2 separate regions of the Homo sapiens genome follow, and region 1 is linked to region 2. The links come from fine-mapping of genetic effects on gene expression. Tissue or cell type: nasal epithelium. Region 2 holds a variant in brackets; the other region holds the start of a gene. All regions are shown on one strand. Distances are between the middles of the regions.

Evidence for each region. PIP is the estimated chance that this variant, and not a neighbour inherited with it, causes the effect.
Region 1: it holds the start of FAM111B, and the variant in region 2 is fine-mapped to the expression of FAM111B in nasal epithelium (TOPMed, PIP 0.94).

What each region holds. Positions count from the first base shown.
Region 1 is chr11:59,103,838-59,112,172 of GRCh38, forward strand. FAM111B (FAM111 trypsin like peptidase B) reads left to right here and starts at 3,400. Exons shown (of 4, transcript NM_198947.4): 1 at 3,400-3,459; 2 at 4,831-4,875; 3 at 5,703-5,869. The coding sequence starts at 5,789. It overlaps LOC105369315 (a long non-coding RNA gene), which reads right to left and starts at 2,888. Exons shown (of 3, transcript XR_007062680.1): 1 at 1-2,888. RefSeq lists enhancers at 3,289-3,378, 4,519-4,568.
Region 2 is chr11:58,992,836-59,001,170 of GRCh38, forward strand. GLYATL1-AS1 (GLYATL1 antisense RNA 1) reads right to left here. Exons shown (of 6, transcript NR_033853.2): 4 at 1,168-1,216. It also overlaps the pseudogene GLYATL1P1 and the pseudogene LOC100287485. Among named protein-coding and RNA genes, the nearest start is that of GLYATL1, 58 kb to the left of the region's middle. The variant T/C (reference allele first, on the strand shown) is at 4,613.

The DNA.
Region 1 (8,335 bases), 110 kb after region 2:
GTGCCTTCCTCTGTATTCCGAGAACATGTCATCTGCACCTCTACATACAGACATCATCCTACTGGTAGTGTTCCAGAGCATCTTTTAGGGGTTCATGAAGGAATCACTCTTCGTAAACACTGGCCTTATTCCCTAACTTCACCAGACCTGACCTTAGTGCATGATCCATTCCCACCTCTCCCAACCACATGAGAGCCTTTTCCTCTTTATGGGTTTACAAAACACAAACTGACCCAACCACCAGTTACTGGCCAAAAGCATTCTTGTCACATTTATAATAAAATCCAGCCAACAGGATACTTTGTGCCAAGGGAATGTTCCTTTTCAGGGCAAACACTCTGTCCCCAGGGATGTTAGACAACTTCCATAGCCCCAGATAAGCATTAGCTAGAAGTGAGTTTTCTTTGGTGGCCCAACAGATTCCCTGAGCATCCCTACTCTGTCACTGATTCCAGTTGCAGTGGGATTGCATCAAAGCTCTCAGAGCACAGCTGCAAAGGGTAAAGCAAAGCTAGAGCTCTACTCTGGACCTATCACTCTAGACAGTTTCTCTGTGAGGGGCAGTTTTATACGTAAGGAAGAAATGGAAGATTACTCCCAAAATGGCCTCAGGGTACTTATCCCAATTGTGTGGTTCAGTTGCTACTCCAGTGATGAGCAAATAAACAGGAAATAGAAGCACAACTATTCCTAAGCTCAAGAAGCAGGGAAGCTCAGGAATTGGTGTGCAGCAGTGCTGCTTGGAGCGCCATTACAAAGGGACAAGCACGGTCCACTGGGAGGTAAAATTCAGGGAATCTAAGACACAGGGGGTATGGGAAACAAGGCAGGCTTTTGTATTTATCATTTGCCGTGATATCTCTCTGTGAACTTTCTTTTAATTTTCCCTGTACTTTAATTATATTTCTTAGGCCTGACGTGGTGGCTTACATCTGTAATCCCAGTACTTTGGGAGGCTGAGGCAGGCAGAGCACCTGAGGCCAGGAGTTCGACCCCAGCCTGGCCAACATGATGAAACCCCATCTCCACTAGAAAAACAAAAGTTAGCTGGGCATGGTGGCAGGCTCCTGTAATCCCAGCTGCTCAGGAGGCTGAGGTATGAGAATCGCTTGAACACAGGAGGTGGAGGTTGCAGTGAACCGACATCATGCCACTGCACTCCAGCCTGAGCAATAGAGCAAGACTCTGTGTCAAAAAAAAAAAAAATTCTCAGTTAATGGCCAACATTGTTACCATCATAAGTCCCAGCTTCCCTGTCTTCCTGTCATCATGTGTTGAATGTCCACTTCCCTCCTTATTTTTCAGTTGGAGTGGATTAGCATCTCCAATTCGACATGTCAAAAGTAGAATTTTACACACACACACACACACACACCCCACTCCTGACACACACAGCATCTCTGTCCTCAGACTTCCCCATCCTTCTAGTTGCTCAAGTCAAAAGCCCAGGAATCGTCATTGAGCCCTCTGTTTCTCTTATTTATGGAACATCCATAAGCAAATTCCAAGGGCTGGCCCTTCAAAATAAATGTGGAATCCAGCCATTTCTAACACTTCCACCATTACCATCTGAGGTCGGGCTCCAACATCTTTGCAATCCTGGGACAGACTCTTAGCTGCCTTCTCCCTTCCACATCTCTTCTTGTCCTCCCAGAGTCTTTACCCCGCACAAACGCTGCTAGGGTGATTTTTTAAAATATGTCAGGGTATATTACCCCCCTGCTTCAAATCCTCCATTTAAAATAAATTTCACATTTATAGCAAAATCCAGACTTCTTCATATGGCCCACCAGGGGCTTTATGCTAATGGAATGTGCAGATGCTCCTCCCTGAGGAGCACCTTTTACCAGGGCAAATTCTCTATCTCCAATGATGTCAGGCAATTTCGACAACACCATTCTCTACCATCTCTTGCTTTTCATAGATTTGTTTCCTCCAGATTCTACAAAAAAAGAAGATCAAGTCTCCTTGTGCAATGATTTACTCTCTGATGTATATTGGTGCCAGGCACGTGTACTGCTTTCAGATGATTCAAGAATAACAGCGATTTAAGAAAGCTGTCGTTAAGTTTTCTCTTCTCTTTGTCTGTATGACATTATTTTTACAATTATACTTCCAAAGTTTGCTCTTTCCGAACACCTCAAGACCCGTGTAATTTAAGCAGTGATTTTAGGGGTCTCTGTATATTTTATATTAATTTCAGAAACATGCTCATGATTATTCCACCAAAACTATCAACTGTTACATAAACATCTGTCCTTCTATGAGTTACAAAATAATTGTCTCCATCCCCACTTAACCATCTTCTCTCCTTCTTTGAGCAACTTCTGAAAAATAACACCCAATACTGATGGCATCTCATTCTATTCAGCTTCTCAGACAGTAAGACGTTCTTTTCTTAAACAGTAAGATGTTTTCTCAAGCCCCATGCAAAGCACTTCTTTGATATCAGTTTGGGGAGGTCGTACTCTGGAGCCTTCATCCAAAGGGTAAAGTACAGCACTCAGTAATGCGCGTCCTGGGAACGAGGCCTAAGCAGTGCTGGCCACTGCCTCCTCCAGGCTGGCATTGTCTGTGTTCGCCAGCCCCGCCGCGAAGTTAGCTCATTTGTGATCAGGCCAAGTCCCTTTAGATTTCACGCAGACGCGGGTGCAGCCTGCTCTGGGACTTGAAGTCCGCTGGAGCCTGGGCCTCTGCATTATCCGGGTGGAGCTCTCTCTGCTGCTGCCGCCAAAGGATCCCGCCTGGATGCTCATCCCGCCACCGTCGCCCACCCCGCCGCTGCAGAAAGGCAGCAACTGCCACACACCTAAGCAACTTGGCGGGCTATTCGCCCTGCAGCTGCCGCCAGCGCGCGGCTCCCGCCAGCGCGCTGGCAATCAAAAGTCGGAGAAAGCGCGAAACCTCCAGGCACCTCCCACTCCGCCCAGCTACCGCGCAGCTCCTCCCTAGCCTCCACTGGGAGACAGGGGACGCCCATGAGCGGGAAAGAGCAGGGCGGTGATTGCTTAGTTTATCCTGGGACACGGGAACTGGCCGTGGACTGAGTGGTGCCGGGGAGGGGATCACTGAGACCGGGAAGGGTCATCCAGACAAATAGGGAGGGTGGGCGGGTTGGCGCGCAGTACCCTCGGCCCGGCCTTCAGACCCACCTGCGCGCGCTGCGCGCTCATCCGGTCCTTCCCTTCAATCACTGTCTGGAGTGATGATAATTGGCTTCCACAGTGGATGAGAGATGAGTCATTTACATCCAATGAGAGAAAAACAGCCTCCAGAGACTCTTCGTCCATTGGCCAGCGAGAGTGTCAGTTCCCAGGCTCCTGCCGCGCACGGGCGAGCCCTTCTAGGCGGGAAAAGTTCAGCTGAGAGATATAAAAGAGCAGTCTTTCCAGCACCTGCAAATCCAGAGCGGCGGGCACTGACGGGCACTTGCACCGTGTGGACAGACTCTCCGGTTCTGTGAGTGGTTTTTCTTTTCCCGGGTCGGACCTGGAGTTCTTAGGGGGATGGCTGACAAGGGCAGTAGGCAGAAGGACCTCAGCCCAAAGTCAAGGGGGTTTTGGATGGGGAGCTGGGCAGCCGCCCGTTGTAATTCCCTTCCCCCTGTCTCAGCTTCAAAGGCCAAGAGTTGTACTCCTGAAGAGATACTTAGAGATCATCTGGGTGTTCCTGAATCTCGAGAGGGTCGTTTGACCCTGGTGGGTCCTTTCCCTGCCCGGTGCCGTTCGCGCCCATAGAAGGAGACCAGGTTCGGTTAAGCAGAGCAGAAACTATTCACTGATCAAGGAATGGAGTAGGAGAGCTCCTGCTCAAAGTGCCTGGAGTGTAGTGTGAGGGTGCTTCTTAAGGTCTTTTAGGGCAGGTAGTTGGAAAGCAAGGATTTCTGGAAAGAGACGGGGCTTTCCAGAAACAGCTGAGTGTGGCAGTCTCCTATTTTCTGTTGCCACCCAACACTACATGTGCCTAGCAAGCTGCGTTTCTCCCCGAGGCACAGATTGAGGTATGGTAATCAGCAAGGATTCAGGTTAGGGTAGCGCTTCTAAGTTCGTTTCCCATCTTGTAGCACGGTGGTTACTGACATCCAGTCTCTGTTTCTGTAAGCAAGCACAGCTTCAAGCACAGGTTACCTTCATAGGTTCTGGGGCTTTAGGAAAGCATTGAGGTCATCCTGCGGTGACAGAGGCAGCTGTTCAAAGAACTTGGTGCGCCTTTGAGGCGGGGGTTGTGGAGTGAGGCAGGTAAAAATGCAGATTCCATAGCCACACCCCGACATACTGAATCAGAGTCTGTGAGGGTGGGATCTGGAATCCTTTTTAAAAAGCTTAGAGGAACCAATTCACACGAACAATAAAAGTTTCATCTGAGCCAAAGTCCTTAATCTAGAAATGAGGAAATGGGGATCCCTAAAAGGGTTACAGGGAGAGGGTTGGTGGAAAGTTAGACTATGACAGTTTTAGGGTGGTTCTTTCCTGGCCTTGGAAAGTTTTCTCAGCTGCTGCTCTGATCAGTACACAGCTGAATGCTTTAGGGGAACCCTCTTCATATATCCAGAGTTCCCTCTCTGTGCAGGTCTCCCACCATGTCTTTGGCCTGTGACCTCTTGTCACCTTAGTCTCTCAGCTTTGTCTCCTTAAATCTGGAATTCCTACTGGTTTTGTCTTGCTGCCCTTCCTTGCCACACTGGCCTGGAATTCCTCAAGGTAGTCTGCTAAAGTGGATTATAGGATACATTTCAATTGTCACTGTCCTTAATTGCATAATGTCCAGTTCCTTGCAAACCATTGTTTCATATGTTTTGCTCTTTTTTGTTTTGTTTTGTTTTCATACTAGGGGGAAATCCAGTCCCTGTTACTCCATTTTGGCCAGAAATTCAAGGTAATGACTTTTAATGTTTCTGACTGCTAGTTCTATCTTCTCTCTCACTTCTGGACCTGTCTCTATTCACTGATATTTCTAGTCATTATGGGTCATATTTATCCACTTTTTAAGTGCCTGCTGATTTTTTTATTAGATATCAAGCTTTGTTAATTTCACAACTTTGGGTGCCAGAAATTTTTACATTCCTATCAATATTCTTGAGCTTTGTTCTAGTATGTTCATATTTTACATGGAAACCATTTTATACTTTCGAAGCTTGCTTTTATTTATTAGGTGGGAGCAGAACTAGGGCTAATTTTGTCCTACTGCGGAAGAAATACCTTGCAGAGTAGTCTCCCTGATACTTCATGAATTATGAAGTTTTCTAGTCGGATTTTTGGGAATTGAAATTATACACAGTCCTGTATGAGCCTCAGAAATTGTTACATCTGCTTCTTTTGGGTACTTCTTTTCCTGTTCCTTTTCAACAGTTTCGTTCCACTCATGCATTGACCAAGCTGAAATCTCAAGGGATACCCACTGCAGATCTCTCATACTGTGTGCTCCTGTGGCTGTCTTCTCCCTAGTACTCTGTCATACAAGCTCCAGTCATCTTGGCCTCCCAAAACTCCTTGCTTGTCTTCTCAAATCAGGGAAACTACTAGACTCTGCCTGTTTCTCCTTCCTAAGATATGCCTTGGAAACTCCATACAGTAAGCTAAATAGCCATAGGGCTTACCTCATATGATTTTCTTCTCAGATATCAGAGATGAGGTCCCACACCACCTGATCTCCAGTGTTTGAAAGTGGTTATTTCATAGATCTTGTTTTTTTGGTTTTTTTAGACATTTCAGGTGGCAGAATAAATTCAATCCTTGTTTCTCCATCTTATCGAGTAGTAGAAGTTAGTTACATTCTCTTTGAACTCATCATGAATTCCATGAAGACTGAAGAAAACAAGTCATTTAGCGCTATGGAAGATGACCAGAGGACTAGACCTGAAGTTTCAAAGGTATATCTACTTTTTTACAACTCCTCAGAGGAGTGATAGTCTAACTATAGTGCCATATGAGGATCTTGGAGATAAGTTCTTAAACAATGGTCGTTATAAGCCCTTCTCTTAGGTAGTTTAAAATATATTTGGGGAGCTCATACACATAAGTGCTTGTGGAAAGCAAAATGATAGAGTTAACAATGCTAAACGTATGTTAAGACAACAAGATGACTAACAAACAATATAGACACTTAAAGTCTTGGAAAGTGTAGACAGGCAAAAATAATTAGCTAATGTTTTCTGAGGAAACACTGTGTGCCTAGAATTGTGTCCCATCATATGTATTATCTCATTTAACACTTAATAGAACTATGCAGTAGGTATTATTATCATACTTATTTTATAAAAGAAGAAACTGAAGCTCAACTTGCTTATAGTTGCAGAAGTAATGGACTTCAGAGCAAGGATTTAAACCTAGTCCATCAGACTGCAGAGACTGGTTTTTGACCCACACTATTTTGCTCAAAATATGCAAAATGATAATACAAAATTGAGACATAAACAAGTGATTTTAGAGTACAGAGAGAAGAATGCTTAATTCAGACTTAGGAAACTACAGCAGCGTCATATGAGAAATGATTTATTAATGAATAATAAATCTAAAATTGTCAAACTCATAGGTGTCGAAGTGGTTGTTGGGCTGGGAATAGAGAAAAATGGAGGTATTAGTCAAGGGGTACAAAGTTTCCTTATACAAGGTGAATAAGTTCTAGGGATCTGTACAGCATGGGTGCCTATAGTTAATAACACTGTTGTATACTCAAGTTCTTGCTAAAATGATAGATCTTATGTTAAGTGTTCTAATTACAAAAATAATAAGAGGGCAGGAAGAGACTTTGGGAGGTGATAGATAGGTTGATGGCATAGATTGTGGTGATAATGTATCTCCATACTCATCAAGTTGCATACATTAATTATGTACATTAATTATGCATTTTGTATGTCTAAAACTAAGTTATTTTTTAAAAAGAATGAATAACATTTCACTAGTGTATCAAGGATGAAGGAATGGCCTAAGTAAAGTCGTGTACACAGGAAAACATATTTGGGGAACAGGATAGCTGCATTTGATGCTTTATAAGGAGAATTCAAGAATATGGTAGGCAAATACTGTTTTCTATACTGGTAAGGTAGTATGGTGCCAAGATCACAGTAGGCTTTATATCAATAAGAGCTTTCCACATTTCCAGTAAAAATATTTTCTAATTGTGAAACAATAAAATGGATTCGCTGGTTCACATGAGTGGACATTCCAGAATTCAGCTGAGCTCTTAATTCAGTGGTATACAGTTTCTTTAAGGACTTGTTTGTGTGTTCAGTCTCTGTGTTCTGCTTTTCATGTTATCCCCTGGCTGGCTTTCTGCATAGTGACAAATAGAGCTGCAGTAATATCAGATGCTTTACTCTCCCTATAATGAGTCTATCCTGGTTTCCTGAGGAAACTTCTCTTTGCCATCTAATTGTCCCAACTTAAGTAGCTCACCCATTTCAACACAAAACCTTGTGACTGAGAGGGCACATATAGATATTCTTAAGCTGTCATGAATTCATTTCCATACGTGTATGGCTCCTAAAAAGTGGGAGAGAGGTAGAATAGCTTTCTGGAAAATAGCTGCAGTATCTTTTTTTTCTTTGAATTCCATGTGTAGGTTTTTGGATTTCCTTCTGTAAATAAAGGAGATGTGTTTACAGACTTTATCTTTGTATTGCTTAGGAGGAGTTATTCAATTCACTTAAGACTTTGTTAAGTTAAATATTAATGTTAAAATGATTAGGGCTATTTCGTTCAAGACAATTGCCACTAATCACATGTGATTATGTAAATTTAAATTTAAATTCAACTTAACTAAAATCAAATAATGAAAAAGGTCAATAGTACAAATTCTCAGTTATATCACGTGTCAAGTACTTAAGAACCACATGTGGCTGTGGAATTAGACAGTGCAGATGTAGAACATTTCCGTCACTGCAGACATTCTATTGGGCAGTACTAGTCTAGGGCATCCAATTATAGAACAGAACTAGAGTATAAAACTGCCAAACTGTTCGTCTAGAAAATAGAATGAGAGGGAAAAATCAAAGTAAAGGAGGCAACAAAGCAAGGGAATATAAATTCAGAAAAAGTGGCAAAAGTAGAAGATACAAAAAAAGATGATAGAAATGAACACAAAAACCCCCACACCCAATTAATTGTCTTACAGATTATTTGAAAGGCTTTAACTTTTATTGTTTCCTTTAAATTTATGTATTTCATATACAGTAAAATTCAGTCTTTTTGGTATACAGTTGAATGGCTTATAACAAATGCCTGCAGTAATGTAACCATGACCAAAATCCAGAAGCAAAGCAGTTCCATCACCCTAAATAATTTCTTGTGTGGTTCCATCACTCTATATAATTTCCTGTTCTCCCCACTTGTGCCCT
Region 2 (8,335 bases):
TGACAATATTGCTTTCTTGGCTTTCTTCCCAGGTCTTCAAGAAAGTTTAGGTGAGGGGATAAGAGTGGCTGCATTTTCAAAGTCACTGAAGGTAGAGCAATCAAGAGCAGTCCTCTTTATTATGGAGAATATCCTGAAGTTCCATGACTCCAATAAAAGCAAGCTGGAAGCTGAGCTGAGTCAGGCCACCCAGATGATGAATTTGAGAGACAAAAACATGTGCTGGTCATTTATAATTGCTATTCCTTGTACATTTTTGTTATTCACATAAGTGAGTTTTGGAATGAAAAGAGGATGAATTCATGCTTTGGGATGAATAAAAGTTGTCAATGGTCAAAATACACAGCTTGCAATGGTGGGTCATTAGACAAGAAGAGTCCCTGGGATCTCTAGAATGTGATGGCACCCAGAAATTACAGGGGTGAGGATGAATGTTGTTGTCTTTCTTTTTGTTTTCTATGGTGAAACTCCCAACTTTAAGAATGCCCTGTTGGTTATCTCTTATTCAGGGCTGGTAAATGATAACTGGAGGTGCAGGAAGAATGAGAGGAGCTGGCGTTACATCAAGCACTGTATAGGAGGCCTGCCAGCAGCCTGTATGCTGGGTCCAGATGGGGCTCCGGTATCATGATTAACCTTGGACTCTTCTTGTGATGTAGGAATAGCCTACAGCATGGAAAAATACCAAAGGGCAGACGACATGGCACGGGTGATCATGGGATTCATGAAATATCTGCATCAGAATAATAGTCCATTTTACTTCTCTTTTCTAGAAGTAAATGATGACTCCCACAGATTTGTGGGGCAGTTCTGTTCCTTTGAGGCCACGTGTAAGTACCACCAATGGACCTGATACCCGGAGAATCTAGTTCCATTTTAGACAATGAAGCTACCTAGCTATCTTGTGCAAGCCATCTCTTAATATATCCGTAGAAGAAACCATAGAATAGGTTTCTTCACTTACAAATGTTTATTCGGCATTTATGATATGCCAGGAGCTTTTCTAACATAGAGACTTGATGTTAGAAGACACAGCCATGCTCTTGTGGAACTTACAATCCAGGCTGGAGGCAGGGGAGAGTATAGTCTTTAAATATGCATAAGTGTAGTAGGGAAGGACGGGTTTAGTAGTAAACATGTAACTAGAAAGCCAGGCTCAGTTCTTACCTCTTAGAATCAGAACTCTTTATGAAATGTGGTTGACAGAATCTGCTATCTGGAAGATAAATGAAGGACTTTAATAAAATTGTCATTAGAATATACCTAATCTATATGGATACTTTATTGGAAATAAATAACCCTGATATATATGAATTGAGGCAATGGCTACACTAAAGAATGGAATCAGTCTCTTTGTTTAGTGACTAGCAAGGTATCAAAGTAAAGTCTCAGACAAATGGCTTTCCTAGGCTACCTTTCATCATTGTTACGCAGAAAAGGAAATCTAGAGAATCAAGTGGACTGGCCTTGGGGCCTCTGCTATGGAAATAACATTTGTTGTGCCTCCTTTCTCCTACTCTTTCTCACTTCCTCATCATTATTGAAGCATGGCACAGGGCAAGGTGTTGCATGTGAATCTGGTTATAAGTTCAGCATTTGGTGTTTGCCACTGCTATCTTAAAGGGTCACGGGCATTCCAGGGGAAGTGACCACTAAGGTGAGGACTGGAGAGTGAGTAGGAGTGAGCCAGACAAAAAAAGCGGAAAATCTAGATGATGGAAAGGACACATGCCATGCACTATCATTAGAACTTTCTATTTGAGCGCTTATATTACAATTCTGAATCGCTGATCTTAAAAACAATTACACTTCATGATCAAAAGGTGGCCTCCTTTGGCTCTGGTCTTCCACTCTGCCATTCATATTTGCCATTGGAACTCTGCTAACATGGTGAAACCCCGTCTCTACTAAAAATACAAAAATTAGCTGGGAATGGTGGTACATGCCTGCAATCCCAGCTACTTGGGAGGCTGAGGCAGGAGAATTGCTTGAACTGGGACCTGGGAAGCAGAGGTTGTAGTGAGCCAAGTTCACATCACTGTAGTCCACCCTGGGCTACAGAGTGAGACTCTGTCTCAAAAAAAAAAAAAAAAAAAAAAGAAAGAAAGAAAGAAAGAAAAAAATTGGAAGGCAGAAGGAAATGTGAGTGCAGAAGAGAAGAATGTGATGCGATGATGATGAAAGCAGAGAGATAAAACATGATGTGATTCAGAGACCCAAGCTAAGGAGTGAGGACAGCCTCTATGATCTGGAAAAGGCAAGGGAGCTGATTTACCCACATTGCCTCCAGAAAGAGCTGGCCCTGCCAACATGTCGGTTTTAGCCCCATAAATCCTATTCTGAACTTCCGACTGCCATAAATATAACACATTGTGTTGCTTTAAGTAATCATATTTATCATAATTTGTTATAATGACAAAAGAAAACTAATACATCATAGACATAAGAATCATCTTGAAAATTTAAAGTTAAGCTTTAAATTTGCAACTCAACCTAGCAACCCCTTGTGATAAAAAGCAAGTAAGAAAACCAAATTTTCACTCCTAGCCACAAAATTTAATTTAGCTGAGCATCTCAAAGCTCCTCAGAGGGTACTCAGAATAAAAAGCAATTTTTTTCATCAAAGAAGTCATCTTCATTTAAGAAAGTGTTGCTATAAAGGGTTATCTTGACACTAATGATTGGCATTGGGTGATTTTAATTCTGAGATGTCTGTCACCATAAATGAAATTATGAGACCATAGGATTGAGCTTCTAATTTTCTGTAAGAATACAGAGGAAGAGGAGGGTAAAAATGTTAAGGGTGAGCTTAAATAATACCCAGATCCTGGATAATCAGGTGTCTTTTGTGCTAATGTACATCATCATATTTGTGTTTGAATTAATGATTTTCTACTGATAAGATTTGAAATGGACAGTGGAACTAATCAACAATATTTCTTGGGGATGCATTTCCACTGATGCCAGCCACAAGGTCAAATCTTAAACCCAACATTTTTCAGTGCCTGTAGGATTTTCTCACTATTATCTGCCGCATGAGCATAAAATGGGATTTCTTTCTGAGAAAGATAACTTTCAAGATGATAACCAATTTGCGACATGTTGCCTTGGTTTCTGTGTTTGGGGACAGTATAACCCATTCTCAACTCACTGGACTGTCCCATCACAAGCCAAGAGACAAGCTGTGCCTCTGGACCCAGCACACCAAATCCTAGAAAATCCTGGATGCAGCGTTCAATATATTTAAAGCTCCTCTCATTTTTCCCAAAGGCCCAGTGTTCATTTACAAGACCTGCATGTGAAACACCTAAGAACATGTTTGAAAAGTTTCCTTCCCTATGAAGAAAAAAAAAATTACCTTTATTCAGCCAATATTATCAAACACTGAAATTCCAATAACACCATTCCTTTCCTTAAGGATCCTACAGCCTAGAGGAGGCAATAGCTGTATTACAACTACCTTTTCTATTCCTGCTTCAAAATGTTTCCAAATAATTGGTGGGGGAACACCGTGTTTTATGGTGTATTTAATAGCAGACAGATAATATGATATGTTATAGGACATCTCAAAATGTCCCGTTAAGTATCCTAAGGAAGAAAATGAACACGTCTTTAAAAGAGTGAGGATATAGACCAGAGAAGCCCTCCACGTGGCTGAATTTACTTGAAAGATGCGTGTATGAAATCATGTGCATTTTGAGTTCTACTCCACAAAATATCTAAATATACAAGATAGTAATTCGTTGAACAGATATTCCAATCAAACATATTTTACAGGAAGATGAGAACAATGCTGATCTTACATCTTCATGTGTCCCAAAGCCTGTCATCACATACCCAGAAACGCAGTTTAAGAAGCTGCAATATAGGAAAAAGAATACTAAATTTTTGGTACTAACCTTTGGGATTCTAATCCTGATTATTTTCTTTTGGAAAAGTTATGTAAGACTCAGTTTTCTTGTTTGTAAAATTATAGTAATATCCTCTGTAAATATGGAAATAGTGAAAGAGAGAAGATCTCCAGGAATTTTTGCCCCTCTCCAGGGAGGAAGACTTTTGAGAAGTTTGTCAGTTTCAGAGTCACTTCATGTTTGCCAGTGGGTGGGTAACAGAACGCTAAGTTTTCTATGGGTGATGCTTTGTTTTTGCTCACTTCCATGCCTAACCTGATCCTGGGCTTGCTTCCTGAAAGATCTCAAGTACGCTTTCCTGCACCCCTCTCCTGTGGATAGCCAAACCTAGAATGGCAAGATATAAAGATATCCATGCGTAGGCTTAGAGGAATCACCTTAGGGCAGGTACTTCATGCCAGACTTCCAGAGTTATACTACTAAATATAATTTAATCCCCATTTATCATTGTTCCCTGTGTATATGTTCCCCTTAACAATCTCATGGGAACACTGGTGGGGCAAAGCAGTATTTGAAGACTGTTAACTTTTCTGGCTAAATCAAACATATCTGTGAATGTGTGTTTAAATTCTATTTATTTTTTCAATTAGTAACAAAATTATTAAGCATAAATGGATTACTAGAGGAAAGCAAATCTCTCTTCTTTCTCTGATCTCCTATTACCCAATTACTTTCTCTAGAAGCAACCACTAATACCAATA[T/C]ATTTTGTACAAGTTTCCCATAAATCTATGCAATTTTAGATATGTACATACATTTGTTTATTTTCACAAATGGTAGCATACTATATACATTGTTCTATCCACCTCATGTTTTTTTACATAGCAAACTATTTTGGAAATATTTTCTAATCTGTCATGTAGAGCTGCTTCATTCTTTGTAATGGCTTCATAGTATTCTAATGTTTTAATGTACCATAATGATTTTTTCTATTTCCCCATTACTGGATGTTTAGGTTGTTTCATAAGTTATGATATCACACATTAAATTTATGAAAATCTTACCATCCAGTTTAGAAATATCATTCATTTATTATGCATAGTCTTTGACTCAACAGTTTTAATTCTGGTAATTCATCTTTCAGAAATATTTATACAACTGTTCAATAATCTATTTATGATGATATTCATTTCAGAAAGTGCCGTAAATTATGTGTACATATTGCAAAAATAAATACATAACTCATATGGAGTACTAAAAGCATACATATCAGTGTCAAAATTATTTACACCTAGCAGGGGAACCCAAGAGGACAGATTTTATTTTTCATTTTGTATGCTTATATACTTTCTATAAGCATGTAGCATTTTGTAAGATATAAATAGTTTCAGTAAACATTTTTTGATGCCACCATGATGTCCATTGCCCTCTCCGAAGGACTCTTGTGAGCTCTAAGTGAAATAATATGCATAAAGACCTTGTCTAATGAAGGCTCTGTTCATGCTCAGCACACAGTTCCTAACGTGACGCCCTTTCTTTACCCATGCAATTTTGTAGCCCATCATAATTTAGTCTCAAATTCTACACTTCCAAGTACAGCCTTTGTGGCAACTCAATAATTCTATCAAGGAATTTGGGAAGTAAAACGTAAAATCTCACTTCTTATCATCACCCATTTTAAATAACCCCATATTGTCATTACTTGCAGTCTTGTGTTTCTTTGGTAATTCCGGTATAAAGAGCATGGTTTTCATGTAATCTACCTGCACTGATTTTGAAGTTGCAACCTTTCTTATTGCTTCATCCAAGCCCTCCTGTCAACCTGGAGAGAGGAGAAAGACAGGTACTGCTTTATACCTTCCATATCAGCTAGGAATAAACCACGCATCTTTTCTTTTAACTCAGACTAGTTAGATTGGATCTGGAAAGTTTGCTCCCAGTTGATAACCTCGGAGCGTGACCTCCTCTAAGTTGTCAGGAGCTTTGGTGAAGATGTGGTAAGAGTTGGTGTAATGATCCCAGTCATTTTTTATCTCCAGATACAACAAATATCATACATAGCCCTACAATTACAAAATACTCTTGCATAGGCCTAGAATACTAGAGATTAACTTGTTTGAAACATTCTGTTTTTCTAAGATAGGTGTAGAAAATGGCCTTGCAGTCGCTCCAAGAATAACTCACTATTTATACACTGAAGATAGTGTCTTTCTTTTAGGGCACTAAAGTGAGCTGCCCTTGAGAGGGTGAGTAAATAGCTCCATTGTCTCGAATGGGAAGTGTAACCAAAATGGTGTATGTTAAGGATTTAAAAGAGAAGGTGCCTAAGGTATGGAAAAAATATAAGAAACAGGTTTGGCAAGGCTCCGGGTTTTTGGCAAGGTGACACCTGAGCTAATCCTAACCCAGGAAGGACTCTGAGGCTGGCTCAGTGATTGGCTCTTGGAGTACATGTGAATAGATAAACTTTTGGAAAGAACTAACATTCCAGAGCCAGATAGTACCTAGAATAGACAGCTTGGTCTGGCTCTACATGTCTGCCTACCCTCTGCTGATGACACTTCCACTTGAGAGTCCTCGCAGGTGAAAACACTTCTTAATCACTTTCAGCCATAGAAGTCTAGGTTGGGATGTAGTCCTATGATCAGAATTTTGATGGAATAGACTGAGTGCTTGGAATCCTAATTTTATTTACACATCCAGGGTTATTGATCACTGGATCTAAGTTCAAGCCTTATCTCACTGCCCTACCCTCTCTCCCAAACAGCCCTTCCAAAACCTGCATACGTCAACAGTGTCAACATTCTTCTCACCACTCCTCAGTTTCAGTTCCCTCATTGCCACACAGAGAATGTCTGGAGAGTGACTGCCCTGGTATTCAGTAACTATTGCTCCTACCTGGTTCTGAGGCTGAGTAATGATGATCTGGTAATCTGTCCAGGCATCTACCATCACCTCCATTTTGAATGGGTTTTTATGTTTTATGTTGAAAATGGTGCTGTATGCCTATAATGCAACAGAACAAAACAGTAGGGGATGAAGTTTTTCTCCAATGTAAAGTCTTATATGAGGCATGGGAAATAAGGACAAGAAGCCTAGGAGGACTTAGGATGGGGCCAGTGCTTCCAAGGTGGTTCATTGGGCTACTCATTGAGAGTTATGTTGCAAAAGGGACCAATAAGCATCCACAAAAATCCATGTTAACACCCGAATCATTAGGAACTGGCTTCCCTTATATTCATTCATTTTTTAAAAATTCATGCCATTTCACATTGTAATTGTGAAATGTGTGAAAAGTTCACATTGTAAATGTGTAGCAGATCTTTAATGGCTTGGTCAACACAAAATATTGGCTACAATCAATTACAGGTGGTAATATATCCTGAAAGATTAAAATTAGAAAAAAAAGGTCCAGAACCATCAGGGCCATTTGGGGCTAAAACCAGGATGGCCACCTCCTCCTCAGCCGAGTGAGTGCTGGAGGAGGGAGCCTGAAACTAGGCTCACTGTGACTCATTTGTGGCACCCATTATTGCCCAACCTGCAGTTCACTATGGTGAAGGAGCAATTCAGACTCACCCTGCAGCATCCCGTCTGGGTCAAACAGTGGCTGCTCCCTAAGGAATAGTTGGGGGCGCTACATAAAGTAGTTTAAAAACTATTGTAAAAAGGACATGTTTCACCAATGTTCTTTCCTTAGATTCTCCAGTGTTTGTAATTCATAAAAATTCCAGCCGATGGGGCATGCTGACCAACTTAAGAGCTGTCAATGCAGTAATTCAACCCCTGGGGGGCTCTCTCAACTGGGTTGCCCTCTCTGGCCATAATCCCCAAAGATTTGCCTTTAATTATAATTCATCTGAAGGATTGCTTTTTTACCGCTCCTCTGGCAAAACAGGATTTTGAAAAATTTGCTTTTACTATACCAGCCATAAATAATAAAGAACCAGCCACCAGGTTTCAGTGGAAAGTGTTGCCTCAGGGAAGGCTTAATAGTCCAACTATTTGTCAGACTTTTGTAGCTCAAGCTCTTCAACCAGTTAGAGACAAATTTTCAGACTATTATATCATTCATTATGTTGATGATATTTTGTGTGCTGCAAAAACCAGAGACAAATTAATTGGCTGTTACACATTTCTGCAAACAGAGGTTTAAAACACAGGGCTGACAATAGCATCTGATAAGATTGAGACCTCTACTCCTTTTCATTATTTCAGAGTGCAGGTAGAGGATAGGAAAATTAAACCACAAAAAATAGAAATAAGAAAAGACACATTAAAAACATTAAATGACTTTCAAAAATTGCTAGGAGATATTAATTGGATTTGGCCAACTCTAGGCATCCCTACTTATGCCATGTCAAATTTGTTCTCTGTCTTGAGAGGGGATCCAGAATTGAATAGTAAAAGAACATTAACTCCAGAGACAACTAAAGAAATTGGATTAGTTGAAGAAAAAATTCAGTGAGCACAAGTAAATAGAATAC